Linked DNA regions of Homo sapiens: region 2 is linked to region 1. The links come from fine-mapping of genetic effects on gene expression. Tissue or cell type: whole blood. Region 1 holds a variant in brackets; the other region holds the start of a gene. All regions are shown on one strand. Distances are from middle to middle.

The links. PIP is the estimated chance that this variant, and not a neighbour inherited with it, causes the effect.
Region 2: ASB8 starts here. The variant in region 1 is fine-mapped to the expression of ASB8 in whole blood (TOPMed, PIP 0.98).

The regions. Positions count from the first base shown.
Region 1 is chr12:48,302,778-48,310,884 of GRCh38, reverse strand. LOC105369753 (a long non-coding RNA gene) reads left to right here and starts at 3,456. Exons shown (of 4, transcript XR_944923.3): 1 at 3,456-3,555; 2 at 4,024-4,170; 3 at 5,343-5,469. The variant A/G (reference allele first, on the strand shown) is at 3,977.
Region 2 is chr12:48,152,723-48,160,819 of GRCh38, reverse strand. It overlaps ASB8 (ankyrin repeat and SOCS box containing 8), which reads left to right and starts at 3,305. Exons shown (of 4, transcript NM_024095.5): 1 at 3,305-3,361; 2 at 7,291-7,452. The coding sequence starts at 7,324. It also overlaps the pseudogene LOC100421855. RefSeq lists enhancers at 3,125-3,344, 3,375-3,424, 3,445-3,494, 2,999-3,521.

The DNA of each region.
Region 1 (8,107 bases):
AGATCTGTCCTTAGAGGAGAGAAGAGAATACTGAGGAGAATCTCTATAAATGTGATTGATACAGAAAAGTTTTCAGTGTAAGTTCTACTCCCATTGTGTTCATGAGAATTCACACTGGGGAAAAACCCTGTAACTGTCATGATTATACTGGAAAAATATTCAGGAAGCACTCACGTTTGATGTACACGAGAGCGCAAACTGGGGAGCTCAAACTGGGGACATATTGATTACAGCTTTTCCCTTACAGTGTACAAGAGAATACAAAATAGAATGCAAAGATGGTGGGAAAGCCTTTAGTATTACTTCATCCCTTAGAAAACATGAGAAACCACACTAGTGAAAAGCCCTATGAATGTAATCAGTACAAAAAATCCTTCCAATATAATCCTTCATTTACCACACATAAGAGTATATAATGGGGAGAATCCCTATGAATGTGGAAAAGCACGTATTGATCTTTCATCTGTTAGGCACATGAGACAATTTATATTAGACATCTTATGAATGTAACCAATGAGTACGGGACAATTTCTCTGTCCTTAGGTAATCAATGAGCAGTTGCAGCAAAGAGAAACACTTCGAATGTCATCAGTGTGAATGAGCCTTTCATTTTGCACAAGACAAATCACACAACAGGAATATATAAGCAATGGGTATCCTTCATCCATTGGAGAAGAATCTTTTAATATAATCAGCAAGGCTGGCTTCATGGGCATGTTACTACACAGGGCTTCAAGCTTGGGTTTTAATGCTGAAGTTGCCGTCTTACAATTCTTAATTTAGTTTTGAATTTGTGTTTTGTAAGTGAAGTCTTATGGAACCATGTAACATGTACTAGAAGCCCTAAAGCTCATGCAAAGACCTCCCGCCACCTCCTCCATTACTGGGGAAAGATTCTATATAACCATATACACAAGACCTCTAAAATTATTTTTACAGATAAATAGTATACAAAAATGTTTTTTTCACACTAATATATACAAGTATGCCAAAAAGAGACACAGCCTTCTTTACAAATCCCAAAATAAATAAACTCATGGATCCAAGGACTTAGGCTAGAAATATGAATCATGTAACAATACTGCAACCACAAGCCTGCTACAAAACTTAACAGATAAAAGAGCTAACTTTACAAAGCACCTAAATTGGTTCAGAAGTTATACTCTTTAAAACAGAGAATTCTATTAATACACTGTGCTAGATAAACATTGATCTAGCACTAATTGCCACAGGATGACAGCAAGTCCTAGAAACAAATCCCACATATTTCAACCCCCACCTCCATCACCACCAGAAGCAATTTGTCCCTCAAAAACCAGACAGCTCTGCTATAATAGCAGCTTTGATGGGCCAATACTTCAAAGGACAACTCCAACTTAAAATCAACCCAACATTTTTGCTATATGGAAATATTTGGTAAGTTTTTCCTCTAACACTGGATTCCTGTTCACTTATCAGCTTCCATATTTCTCAGATTTCAGAAATATTGAGATGTTCTTTCTCCACCACTCACTTCTAATTTCCCTTATTGGATGCTTGGGAAATACTCGCCTTCATCATACTTGTCCCACTGTCTTATATGCTGCTTTCTTCAACCATCAAAAGAATAAATAAAATTTACAGTTTATAATTATGTTTTAAACTATTTAAAAAAAAACCAATGGGGAAAAAGTCTCTAGGGCTTCTATGAAGCTTTTGGAGAGAAAAATGTATTTTTAAACCTTAGCAAAAAAGTTGAATTTCAGGACTAGTATCTGAAGGCCTTAATTAACCAGAAGAGGATAAAATATCCTTCATCTCATGTCTTAGAACTCTAAAATATGACTTTCTAGAAGACAAGGACCAGGCTACATGTGACTTACATTACAAAATGTTTGTTTTGTTGAGTTATTATGTTGACACTTATAAACTTTCAGATACGGTTGCTACTTTCTCCTAGTCCACTAGTTGCTTACATATAGCCATTCTTCATAAGCCCGTCACCTAAATGGGTCTTTTCTCCATGATCCATTTGCCTTAAAATCCCTAAGACACAAGTACCAAGTCTCTTCATCATGCACCAATAATAACAGCAATGCCTACAGTTGGATAAAACTGAAGAAGGTATCCCTAGTCCTAAAAACTTCGAAATAATATGTTAAACTAATTCTGTCCTGTCTGCAGCTCCTGAACTTCAACAGTTATTTTTCTTTTTAAATAATAGTTATATCCTACTTTTCTGACTCATTAATATAAGTGCATTGCATAGAATGTAGAAAATACAAAAAGTACTACAGACCAGGGGTCCCCAATCTCCAGGCCACCAACCGGTACCTGTCAGAAACCAGGCAGCACACCAGGTGGTGGGCAGCCAGCATTACCTCCTGAGCTCTGCCTCCTGTCAGATCAGTGGCGACATTAGATTCTCACAGGATCAGCACCCTATCGTGAACTGCTCATGTGAGGAATCTAGGCTGCCCACTCTTTATGAGACTCTAATGCCTGATGATGAGTTTCATCCCGAAACCATCTCCCCAACCCCCGTTCTCCCCAACGCCCCCGTCCATGGAAGAATTGTCTTCCACAAAAGTGGTCCCTGATGCCAAAAAGGTTGGGGACCGCTGCTACAGACTAAAGAAAACAAAGTGTGCATATTCCTAAGGCCTTATAAATGAAATCACCTACTCTGAAGAAATTAAAGCAGACCTTTTTTAGAAAGAGAAAAAAAGTGAGGGAAGGGAGAGAGCCCCCAAATAAGTTAAGAATCCAAGGAGGCTTGCTCCTCTAATAGTCACCAAAAAGTAGGGGCTTTTCACTTCCTAAAAGAAACGGAAATTTTCCCAAAGAAAATGGAATACGCAACACATCCTCTGCTTATTCCATCTTTCTTCTGTTCACTTTACCTGCACTGATGGTATAATGGGCCTTTTTCTGCCTCTTCCATTTTTAGGAAAACGTTTGTCTTCAGAAAACCTCCATTCCCGGTTCTTCTGAAAACAAAAATTAAGTCTAAGAATTATTTAAAAGATTAAGAATTTTCAAAAATTCTTAATCTTTCCCACCCTAGACGTGTGGGCTCATAACAGGAAGACTTCATAGTGACATGGGCAGAAGGCACCAGGGGAGCTGGAGGGGCCCTCAGGAGGCCAGGGGAGTCCCAAATTCACACGGTAGCTCACAGTACTGGGGAATCTCCTTTTCAGAGATGGATGAGCCACTCTTCCACTCTCCCAGAGCTGCCTGGACAGAGAAAGGTAGGCCATGGGCCTTGAGATCCAGGAAAGCACATGCTAAACGGCACAGAAGCCCAGGGATTAGGGTGCTACTTCTATCCAAGAAGGAAAACAAAACAAAACAAAACCAAAAGCCAAAAAACTGAAATTCTCCTCCCAGGAGTCTCAGCGCGGTGGGAAGCAAGTCCGTTGGCCGAGAGAGCCGCCGTTCTCCTGGCTCCGCCCCACCGCAGTCCGCTCTTATTTCCGGAGGTGGAAGAGAAATGGCTCCTTAGACCCTTGCTGGGGATAGTTACTGAAAGGGGCACTTTTTTCTTTTACAGCCCATAAAGAGCGCTTTCCCGTAAGGAGAAGCAGAATAACAAAAAAGACAAATTGTCAAAGGGCAAAATGTACTCATTTGGATAAGGCCCCAGAGCGAAGGGAACACAAGGGGGATGACTTCTGCGAGGTTGAGGATTGAAAGATACTGGCCAAATGGATGCCTGAGACTTTTGGAGTTGAGGAGGAGATGCTAACCAAAGGGCTAGGCTGGGTAGAGAACAGGAAACAAGACGTTTAGTTAGAAGGAATGGCATAGGCAGAGACAGCCTTTCTCCACCATACAATGCAGACTTTTTATTTTATTTTGAGACAGGTTCTCGCTCCGTTACCAAAGGCTGGAGTGCAGTGGTGCCATCACGACTCACTGCAGCAGCCTTCACCTCCCCGAGATCAGGCGATTCTTCCACCTCAGCTACCCCAGTAGCTGGGACTACGGGCGC[A/G]CGCCACTACAGCTGGCTATTTTTTGTTTGTTTGTTTTTTAATGTAGAGATGTGGTCTCCCTGTGTTGCCCAGGCTGCTCTGGAACTCCTGGGGGAAAGTGATCCTCCTGCCTAGGCCTTCCAAAGTGTTGTGATTACAAACGTGAGCTACCTGCCTGGCCAAGGATCTGGAATTTTTGTTGTTAACACTCCAGGTAATTGGATAGATAGATAGATGATAGATAGATAGATAGATAGATAGATAGATAGATAGATAGATAGATTTTATGTATTTATTTATTTATTTTGCTGCTGAGACCAGGATTTTGCCTCATTGCCCCAGGGTGGTCTCAAATTCCTGGCCTCAGCAGTCCTCCCACTTGGCCCCCCAGAGTGCTGGGATTACAGGTGTGAGCCACCAGGCCCGGCCTAGATTTCTGAATAATTAAGGAAGAATTATTTTTCCCTCTGTCCATCCACACGCAAGTGCTTCCTCTCTAACAATCTTTCCTGCTACAGGCTCTCTGTTTGGCATGCCTAGGGAGTGGCACTGAGTGTTCAGGCTTTCTCTTGACTTTATTCTCCTGCCCATCATCAAGTTTTTAGCTAGCCATATTATTAAAATTAATTCCCAATATTACTGCTAGTTTATGCCTTAAAATGTGCGAATGATAAACATAACAAAATGCTTGTAAGTACAAATATATCCTCAGGGGAATTTCAGTTTTGTTTTGTCATGGTGGGACCTAATTCTCAAAGTTTGACTGTGCGTCAGAAACATCTGAAAGATTTAAAAAACACATTGGGCTGGGCACGGTGGTTCATGCCTGTAATCCCAACACTTTCGGAGGCTGAGGCAGGCAGATCGCTTGAGCTCAGGAGTTTGAGACCAGCCTGGGCAACATGGTGAAACCTCATCTCTACAACAACAAAAAAATACAAAAAATTAGCTGCTTGTGATGGCACGTGGTCCCAGCCACTCGGAGGCTGAGGTGGGAAGATCACTTGAGCCGGGAGGTGGAGGTTGCAGTGAGCCGAGATCATACCACTGCACTCTGGCCTGGGTGACAGAGTGAGACCCCATCTCAAAATAAACAAAACAAAACAAAACAAAACAAAACAAAACAAAAACAGATTGCTGGGCCCTACCTGAAAAGTTTCTGATTTAGTAGGTTCAGGGTGAGGCTCAATAATTTGCATTTTTAACAAATTTCCAGATGATGCTGCTGTTCTGATGACCACACTTTGAGAACTACTGGTCTAGCATATCTAATTATAATAGGTAGCATTTACTGAAGTTTCTGCAGTATGTTAAAGGAGTGGTTGACTTAACATGCAATTCTTATCAATACCATAACAGATAGGGGTTAATATTTCTATCTTATAGGAGGAAACCTGGCTGAGGATAATGACTGAGATTACTTATTGTAAGAGAAGGCTGCTGAAGTTTAGAAAAACACACCTATCCACCATCAGGCGGGCCACTGGCTTCACATTCTTCTTTTATCTAAAAAGTAAGCAGGCATAGAATGTTATGTGCTATGGTTTAAAAATACCTTTGCTGAACTGAGTGTTCTCTTGGGTAGTGGTTTTGGGCAAATAATTTCACCTCTGCAAGTCTTAGTGTCCTCAAAATGGGGGACAGATTGGACTACTGGAGTTAGGCCATCAAGACCCCTAACCTGTTACTATTTTCCCCCGTTGGGTCCCATGTTTTGAACAATTTTTATTTTTATTTTATTTATTTATTTATTTATTTATTATGTATGTATTTATGTATTTTTTCGGATGGAGTCTCGCTGTGTTGCCCAGGCTGGAGTGCAGTGGCGTGATCTCGGCTCACTGCAAGCTCTGCCTCCCGGGTTCATGCCATTCTCCTGCCTCAGCCTCCCCAGTAGCTGGGACTACAGGCGCCCGCCACCACGCACGGCTAGTTTTTTGTATTTTTTAGTAGAGATGGGGTTTCACTGTGTTAGCCAGGATGGTCTGGATCTCCTGACCTTGTGATCCACCCGCCTCAGCCTCCCAAAGTGGAACAATTTTTATTATATTAGCCAAAGACATTTTCGTTAGCATAAGATAACCATGGTTGCCACCCTGAGTTGGTATTTCAGCCAAAAACAAAGAAACAAGATTTTATTTAGCATGCACAAACTTAGGTAGCTATGTGATTTCTCTTAGAACACTGAAATATTGAGAGTTGCTTATGAATGCCTAGAGGTTTGTAGACCATGGGCTCAACACAATAGAAATGGTTTGTTTTCAAGGTTCTTTCTTGTAATACTAAATGAATCTGTAAGGCTCAGTGCTGATGTAATCATTATTGCCTTGACCAGTGCTTGAGTATGTGGGATAACACCTTCGATGCCTCTGTTTCTATACTTTTGCCAAGAGATGAAATAGGAATGAGAAGGTGAAATGGAGTTCAGGAAAATGAGGTTGTGTTTATACCAACACACTGCTGTCCCTTTCATTGTTAATGTCTGTTAATTGTGTGGGGCTCTTTCTATGATATTATGTTCTCTCTGTTTTTATATTTTCAAATATTTCACTGTGGATAGATTTAACTTTCTCTCTTTTAAGATAGATAATGCTCTGTTCGCCATTGGAGATGGCCTGTTGTTATTGCCAGCGGTAGTAGCATAAGTATTGGTATTCCCATTTCATTCCTCGGCAAAAGTATAAAAAGAGAAGCATTGAAGTTGTTATCCCACTGACTCAATACAAAATCCATACATTTTTCCATGTAAAATAATTCTTGCACTATCCTCAAAATGTAAGAGGAGTTGAGAAAACAGACATATTTTTAAGGAAGAAATTGACTGTACTGCATATCACATATTTGAGATAACCATTTGCCCAAATAAGCATAATGGCCACATTAAACAGGAAAACTGTGTTAGGCTATTATAAAACAATCAAGGGCAGGGACCACCCATTTGTTCTTTTTTGCCCTCAAGACTTTAAAAGGCTAGTAGACTACGAATGATAATATTACCTCATATTATTGAGCCATTGTGTATAATGTTATTCATAGATTGAGGCCTCCATCCCAGAGAGATCTGTGCTACCATATCACTAACTCCAACACAGTGACTGGGTCCTAATCAAGAACCATTTATGAAATTCCTTATTGGCTCTTTTTTGGATCAGACCATAGCAAGTATCCTTGATAGTTCACACCATTCAAAAGTGCTGGATGAGAAGTCTAAATACAATGCATCTCACTGTTGGAAATTTTCTATTCTAACTATTAATGTAGCAGACTACCTTCTTTTGATTATCAAGCAGACATAAAATGCCATCAACAAAACAGAATGCTTTTATGTGTTATCACTATCAATTGATGTGCAAAGAAATTATTGAGATAAGGGTGTTACATCTTCTTGGGAACCCACTATGTAAAGGATATACCCTGTGACAGTGCTATGGACAGATTAATACTTTCACAGACTAAATGCAAATACTTTTACAAATGAAATGAAATCTTAATTATCTGCAGAGCAACATAGGCAAAATCTATATAGGTTGTAGAATAAATGGCGAGGTAACCAAATTGGTATTGTTGCTACCATTTTTAATATCCTTAATTGATTCACCTTGAGTAACCTTTCCCTTGTTCCCTCTTGTATTCCATTGGCCCCTGAAACCACCTTCTCCTTAACCCCTCCTCGATGAAACACCAGCTAATTTTCTAGAAACCCTTCCATTCTAAATAAAAGAATACGTTTTATCATTCAGGGATAGAATTAGTCACTTCTCAAGACTCCCTCTTTATTTGGATTCCCAAACTTAATTCAGCTACTGATTGGTGTTTTAATTGATTGAACAAAAGAATTAAGAGCATACTCACCAAAATCTAATTATACCATTTATTATTGGACTATGTTATAATAAATTTCTTTTTTTATTTACTTAAGTATTGAAAAAGTTATATTAGGCAAAAAAAGATCTAATAATTCTACTAAATTATTTATCTACTCCACTCTACATTACTAGTGGAGGGTGTCCAGGTTCTTGGCATTTTGAACAAAGAATTGCACAAAATGCACAAATAAAGCAACAAAAGAAAAGCACAGATTTATTGAAAAGAAAGTACATGCCACAGAGTGGGAGCAGTCTTGAGCAAACAGCTCATGAGCACTAGTTACA
Region 2 (8,097 bases), 150 kb after region 1:
TTACTGCCTGGAGTGAAGTATTCAAAATAGAAAAGACAGAGAAGCTAGAGAAGGAACAGCAGTGAAGCATCAACAAGCCTTTACTGGGGGACCATTTTCCCTCACAACACATTTGGAGAGCCTGAAACTGACAAAGACTACCTGGGTCAGTGGCTGTTGATTTATTCTGGTTTCAGTCATTACTGATATCTGTCCAGAAGAACTAGAAAAAAATAATTCAAGTTGTGGGTGAGATAGTGTTCCAACTCTGCCAAATTTAACTTTTCATCACCATTGACCCAGAGAGGGACATAAAAAAGGCCATTGCAAATTATGTGAAAGAATTTTCTCCCAAACTGGTTGGCCTGATTGGCACGAAAGAAGAGATCAATCACGTGGCCAGAGCATACAGAGTATATTACAGCTCTAGCCCCAAGGATGAAGATGAAGACCATGTTAGTGAATCATACAATAACAATGTCTTTGATTGGGCCAGATGGTGAGTTTCCAGATTATTTTGGCCAGACCAGGAAGAATGCAGAAATTGTTAGCCAGTTCAATTGCTGCACACATGAGGGCACACAGGAAAAAAGAGCTAGCCAAAGCAGTGATGCTGGGTGCAATATTCTCTTGTTAAAGAGGAAGGAAGCAGCCAGGCGCGGTGGCTCACGCCTGTAATCCCAACACTTTTGGAGACCGAAGTGGGTGGAACACCTGAGGTCAGGAGTTCGACACCAGCCTGGCCATCATGGTGATACCCTGTCTCTACTAAAAATACAAAAATTAGCCAGGTGTGATGGTGCCCGCCTGTAACCCCAGCTACTCAGGAGGCCAAGGCAGGAGAATTGCTTGAACCCGGGAGGTGGGTGGAGGTTGCAGTGAGCTGAGATCGTGCCACTGCACTCCAGCCTGGGTGACAGAGTGAGACTTCATCTCAAAAAAAAAAAAAAAAGGAAGCTTTGTCTTCCATAGAAATATATATATTGTGTATATATATGTAATATATATAGTATATCTGTAATATATAGTACATATGTAATATATATATTGTGTGTATATATATATGTTATATATATGCAACCTACAGAATGACCTTTGCACCATTGTACCATGAGAATGTTTCTATTTTGGATTGGCATGTTACTCCTGGGTTCAGTCAAAATAGACTCTTGAAACTGTAAGATTACAACTCAAAGTCTCCCAGGTAGCTGTGGTGAGACCAGAGGACCAAGTCTAAATGAAGTCAGTGAAGAGTGGAGGACGCTCATGGAAGGACACAGCAAGGGAGGCACAGCCAGTGCATCTCCCATTATGAATGGGCCCTCCCAGCAGCTTTATTGGCTCTCCAGTGTTTTGGACCCTTGCTCATACAGGCTGTGGAACTGAATTTCACAGAAAAGAATAATTTTTATAGCACTTTGGCTTCTCTCTTCTTGAGTTATTTGCTCTTCTGTGTTCTTGGTGGCTGATGATAGTCAGATTAGGCTCTCTGCCATTCAAAGTTTATCTTTGTACTTGAAAGCATAAGTTTTGTCTTCTTTGTTAATGAATATCACTGTCAGGCTTGCTCCACTGCCCTATCAGCAGGTACTGATTTGACTAATAAAGATGAGATCTATTGTTTGGGGGGAAAAAAAGTTAGTTTGATTTCTCTAGGGGTCTCTTATGTGATTTTTAGCTAAGTGATGGGCTAGGTTTTCAATGACATGCCAAATGGAAATAAGAAGATATTGATCATGAGTGTGACATAGAGTAGTTTTCTGCATATACTGAGTTGCAGGCCAAGTAAAATAAAAGTGTACTCAGTTTTTCAATAAATAAGTAAAATAACCTGTATTGAGAGCCTATTTTATCACTCCCTGGGAGACTCCGCTCATTCTTACATTTGTAAGATGCTGATGGTTTCCCAGAATTTATATACTTCAGCATTTCCCAACCAAGAAATTTGAGAGATGTGGTCCAGTGTGGTGACTCATGCCTGTAATCCCAGCACTTTGGGAGGCCGAGGAGGGTGGATCACCTGAGGTCAGGAGTTTGAGACCAGCCTGGCCAACATGGTGAAACCCCATCTCTAATAAAAATACAAAAAAAAAATTAGCCAGGTGTGGTGGCAGGTGACTGTAGTCTCAGTTACTCAGGAGGCTGAGGCAGGAGAATCACTTGAACCCGGAAGGCTGAGGTTGCAGCCAGCCGAGATCACGCCATTGCACTCCAGCCTGGGTGAGAAGAGCGAAACTACATCTCAAAAATAAATAATGATGATGATAATAATAATAATAATAATAATAATAATAAAAACATTGCCAACATTTGCAACTTGGAAAAATTCACTTTTTAAAAAAAATCTGTATTTCAGCTTCTTTTGAAAAATGGACGATCTCACCATGGTGCAGTGGCAGGAAGTGGAGGGCATATTCCTACCTGGCAAAATTCCTTTGAGTCTGGAGCTCAAAGGAGGCCCACTCCTCAGACCAGGTCATGAACTTTCAGTTTACCATCCTCTTACTGATGTACATGATCTGTCTGGGCCTGCTTTAAATCTCTAATTGGTTAGATTTGGTTGCTTAGAACAAGCTCTGGGGAGTAGGTGTGGGGCACTCTGGTTAAACAGGCTACCGGGCAGACCACAACTCTTGCAGTCTGCCTAAATGGGCTGCTGCTTCACTCCTTCCATGCACCACCACCATGTGCTGCTGACTTCAAAATGTTTATGCTTTGCACAGAAAGTCTGTCACTCAGAGGTGTCATCATGTTTTTGTGCGGGAAGTTTCATTAACCCTAATAAGAGTTATAAAGGTCATTTATTCCTCTACATTTAGAATACTACACCTCTTGGGTGGTTGAGTTTGTCTTTGATATGGTTTACTTGAAGGAGGGTGGACATGTACAGGAGGGTTCTAAGGAGCATAGATTCGTTCCACCATTATGAATAATGCTGTAAGTATTTTTGTCAAAGACACTTCCTACTAAGAGTTTAGTCTCCTAAGCAACTGAACCATTGTGGATGGACCCCTGCTGGCCTGGTCCACGCAGGTGCAACCATATAGAATCGGCCCAACACTCAGGGTTCCTGAGCTTTTTTATCCCCGCTGCAGGACCAAGACCCGAACCCTGCGGCTGTGGCCGAGAACGCTGCACTGAGCCTGCGCGCAAAGCCTCTGAGTAAAAGGAGAAAGTAACCCCCTAACTAGGCCTCTGGAGGGCGAAAGCTGCTGCACAAGTCTGCGCAGGCGCGCCCCGCTGACGAACACTCATCAGTGCGCAGGCGCCCATCTTAGTTGGTCTTCTAGTCCGGTAAACAGAGGGCCTGCCCCCGACAGCTTCTGCTTCCGGGTCACGCCTTGACAGCGGCTTTCAACCCCCACCTCAGCCCAGCAATTCGGTGAGTGCGGTCCTTGGAGTGGGTCTACAGCCAGGTTTCCTAACCCAGGGTACCACGCCCAATAACGCTTCCTCTACTCCCTGGTCGAAGTGCTCTAGTTCTCGAGGCTGAGACTTATTTCCGGGCCTTAGAAGGCAGATCGAAGAGGGGGTTGGTCCGCGTCTGAGGCCCCCCAGCGCAAATTGCGTGATTCTCTTTCAGTACCGGACCTACCGGGATTGCTGCGATCTGTTTAGAGCCCGTGCAGAAAGTGACACCGCACGTCCTTGCGTTTCGTGCCCTTGCCCCCCGCCCCCTAGCCTCAGCGAGACAGCTGCCGCGGGCCCTCCCGCAGCAGGTGCGGTGGGGATTACGGGCGCTGCAGGCTCGGCCAAGGTTCTCCCGGGGCGGGAGGGGGCGGGGCCGAGGCCTCCCTCGCATCAGAGCTGTTGTGTCTTCTCTTTTCCAGTTTGCTTTTTTTTTTTTTTTTTTTCAGCTTCTCAGTAAGTGCCCTTTGGTGTTTTCTCTGGATCCCGTAGCAAAAGAAAACGAGGGAGACAGGGCTTTCAGCTCTAGCAGAGGAAAGGGCCTTCCAAGGGGATCAAACCTTACACGGGCTGCTGTCTAGTGAGATCGAATTTAGCTTTCCTTGACCATTCCTGAAGTGAATGCTGTCTGCCCTGAAGTTTCATTCCTTTACCGGGAGCTTCCAGGCAGCAGCAGACCACTGACCATACTCTCAGGAGTTCTTAGCCCAGAGCCCAAGAGCGCCCGGGAAATTAGTTCAGGATTTAGTTTCATCCGATTATCATGGCCCAGAAATGGTTAACAAAACGACTTTATTTATTTATTTTAATTTTTGAATTTTTTTGTAGAGACGATTGGGTTTTGGGGTCGTCTCGCCATGTTGCTCAGGCTGGTCTTGAACTTCCAGGTTCAAGAGTTCCTCCTGCCTTGGCCTCCCAAAGTGCTGGGATTACAGGCAACAGAACCACTTTGGTCCAAGCCTCCTGCTTTAGATGCTCTGTCTTCTGCTGCCATTCTTGGAATTACCAACTCAAATGCACTTGTCTTTTTTTTTCCTTGAAACAAAAAAATTATAAGATACAGATACTTGTCTCAGAGCAGTTTAGTGGCTACTGGAGAGATTAAAACACATGCCAAATCTAAACTATCTAGAAAATGTCATAGAGACATATAAACAAGTGTGTCAGCTTATCCGTGCATGATAACGGGAGAAAAATACCTAATTTGAATTATCGATACATATGAATATTTTTACTTGCATTCTTTTAATGGAATTTACATCTACTATAAATGGCTACTGATTCACAAAATAGAAACTATCAGAATTTATAGTATATAATATATAAAGGGATACACAATCACAAAAAGCAAAAATAGGCCGGGCATGGTGGCTCATGTCTGTAATCCCAGCACTCTGGGAGGCCAAAGCAGGTGGATGACCTGAGGTCAGGAGTTTGAGACCAGTTTGGCCAACATGGTGAAACCCTGTCTCTACTAAACATACAAAAATTAGCTGGGCGTGATGGTGCACACCTGTAAATCCCAGCTACTCAGGAGGCTGAGGAACGTGAATTGCTTGAGCCTGGGAGGCTGAGGTTGCAGTGAGCTGAGATCGCACCACTGCACTCCAGCCTAGATGACAGAGTGAGACTCCGCCTCAAAAAAAAAAAAATAAAGCAAAAGACTATATATACATATATATATATATATTTTTTTTTTTTTTGAGATGGAGTCTCACTCTGTCATCTAGGCTGGAGTGCAGTGGCGCGATCTCAGCTCACTGCAACCGCCACCTCCCAGGTTCAAGCGATTCTCCTGCCTCAGCCTCCCAAGTGGCTGGGACTACCAGGGGTGGTGCATGCCACCATGCCTGGCTAATTTTTTTGTATTTTCAGTAGAGACGGGGTTTCACCATGTTGGCCAGGCTAGTCTCGAACTGCTGACCTCAAGTGATCCGCCCATCTCGGCCTCCCAAAGTGCTGGGATTACAGGCGTGAGCCATCGCGCCCCGCCAAAACATTATATATTATTAAATGACCAAAACAATTTCATATGGGTAATGTGCTTATTTATTTCAAGTCTTGAATTTCTTAGGATCTAAAGTAATAAACTTTACATTGGTTCAACAGATGTTAAGAACCTACCATGTGTTCAGGTACTATTGAAAAAATCAGTATCGTTATTCCCAAAGAGCTTATAATAAGAACACAGATTTCTAAGCAGTTGCACCTAGAGAGCTGATACTGTGTATTATATTTTCCCTATTGTTTTTGATATGTACTGTTTCATAGAAGTGTTCTACCTTATTGGCTGTAATTTTAAATGGTCCCTAACTCTTGTCTCTTATACAGCCAAGCCTTTTAAGTTGAATTGAAGTATATTGCATTATTTTCTTCTTCCATCCTAGAACTCTGTCCTATTGTGGTTTCAACATATATTTCACCAAATCTATTTCTCAGTTGCCATGAATAGCCAATTATTAAAAATTTTCACTCATTTTATTTATTTTTTTGAGATGGAGTCTCACTCTGTTGCCAAGATTGGAGTACAGTAGTGCAGCCTCAGCTCACTGCAACCTCTGCCTCCTGGGTTCAAGCTATTTTCCTGCCTCAGCCTCCCGAGTAGCTGGAATTACAGGCGTGCGCCACCATGCCCAGCTAATTTTTTTTGTATTTTTAGTACAGATGGGCTTTCACCATGTTGGTAAGGCTGGTCTCGAACTCCTGACCTCAGGTGATCCACCCACCTCAGCCTTCCAAAGTGCTGGGATTACAGGTGTGAGCCACCACGCCCCACCTTTAACTCATTTTAAAATCTGCAAATTTTCCTAAAACTGAAAGTACATTTTATTATTCTGAATTTTAATTTTTTCCTAGTTTTATATAAATGACTCCAGGGTAGTTATACTTTTGCTTTCCTTACCTATTTTAGAATACTACCTCAAATATTTCCTTTTTTTTTTTTTTTTTTTTGAGATAGAGTCTCACTCTGTTGCCCAGGCTGGAGTGCGGTGGCCCGATCTCGGCTCACTGCAAGCTCTGCCTCCCAGGTTCACGCCATTCTCCTGCCCCAGCCTCCCAAGTAGTTGGGACTACAGGCGCCCACCACCACGTCCAGCTAATTTTTTTGTATTTTTTGTAGAGACGGGGTTTCACTGTGTTAGCCAAGATGGTCTGGATCTCCTGACCTTGTGATCCACCCATCTCGGCCTCCCAAAGTGCTGGGATTACAGGCATGAGCCACCACGCCCTGCCAAATATTTCCTTTTTTTCCTCTTCTGAACACATTTGAAAATGTTTCAGATAACTTTTCATTATTAAGATATATTTGCTCCATAGCCTTCTTCCTCTCTTTTCACACATAACAATCACTTCTATACTGTTTAGTCAGTCGACCAACCAATATTTGTTAAATACCTACCTTTTGTGAGATTCTGTGGCTGGCCTTACATGGGTGAAAAAGTAGAAGACAAAGTCCTTGCCTTCCAGTTGATTACAGTTTCGATGGAGAAACAATATGTACATAACTATATTGCAAGGCCCAGTGTTATAAATAACTTAATGGTGGTGCTGATCATAAAAACCACAAAAATTCAAAGAAGGAAAATAATGTTTTTTGACCTCTTCAGCCTTTTAAAAATCCTATTCCTTGCCTAGTCGTTTGTAAACCACACAGAGCTCCACGGGGGTCTTAGTACCTCTTGGGGAAATCTCGTGCTAGACTAGGTTAGAGTAGAACATTTGTGTCCAGGTTTATCCAACTCCCTAGGCAACTATTATAATCCAATTCCTTATGATTATGGAAATAGTATTAATCACTCCTTGAAATCTGCTTTTAGCATTGGGAAGGCCTCAGAGAAGACCTAACCCTAAAGACAGGTGTGCTCAGTGATATTGTATATGCCGAAAACTTCTTTGTTTCAGGCAGTTTGGAGCATGTGAACACCTTGAGCCTTGATGAGTTCCAGTATGTGGTATATTATGCAGAGCATTCAGAGCAAATACTCTCTCTCCGAGCGCTTAATCCGAACAATTGCTGCCATCCGTTCCTTCCCACATGATAATGTAGAGGACCTCATCAGAGGGGTGAGTGTGCTGGTATTGACAGGAGAGTCCTTGCGATATGAAGTGGGCAAAATCCTCATGGATCACAGATTTGCAGCTTTGACTCAACCCAAGATCACAGGGAGTTTTTACATTTTGCTAACTGCATTAACTTGATCATTAAAATGTATTTCCCCTATGTTTGCTTCGCTTCCCTTCTCCCTTTCACTTTGTGTATCTGATATTTTTCTTCATGGAATATGTTCTCAATAACCCTAGTCTCATGTTCTTTGTAAAATATCTGAGTACGATGCATATGTAATCCATTGAGCTCAAAGTCTTCTATACATGTTTTATTAAGGGAGGAGGTGAGCAAAGCAGAGGTGGTTTTTATTTTTATTTGTTGAGACAGGGCTTCACTTTTGTCACCCAGGCTGGAGTGCAGTGGCACAAACATGGCTTACTGCAGCCTTGACCTCCTGGGCTCAAGCGATCCTCCCACCTCAGCCCCCTCAAGTAGCTGGGACTACAGGCACATGCCACCCATGTCCAGCTAATTTTTTTTTTTTTAATTTTTTGTAGAGATGGTGTTTCACCATGTTTCCCAGGCTGGTCTTGAATTCTCATGCTCAAGCAACCCACCTGCCTTGGGTTCCCAAAGTCGTGGGATTAGAGGTGTAAGCCACT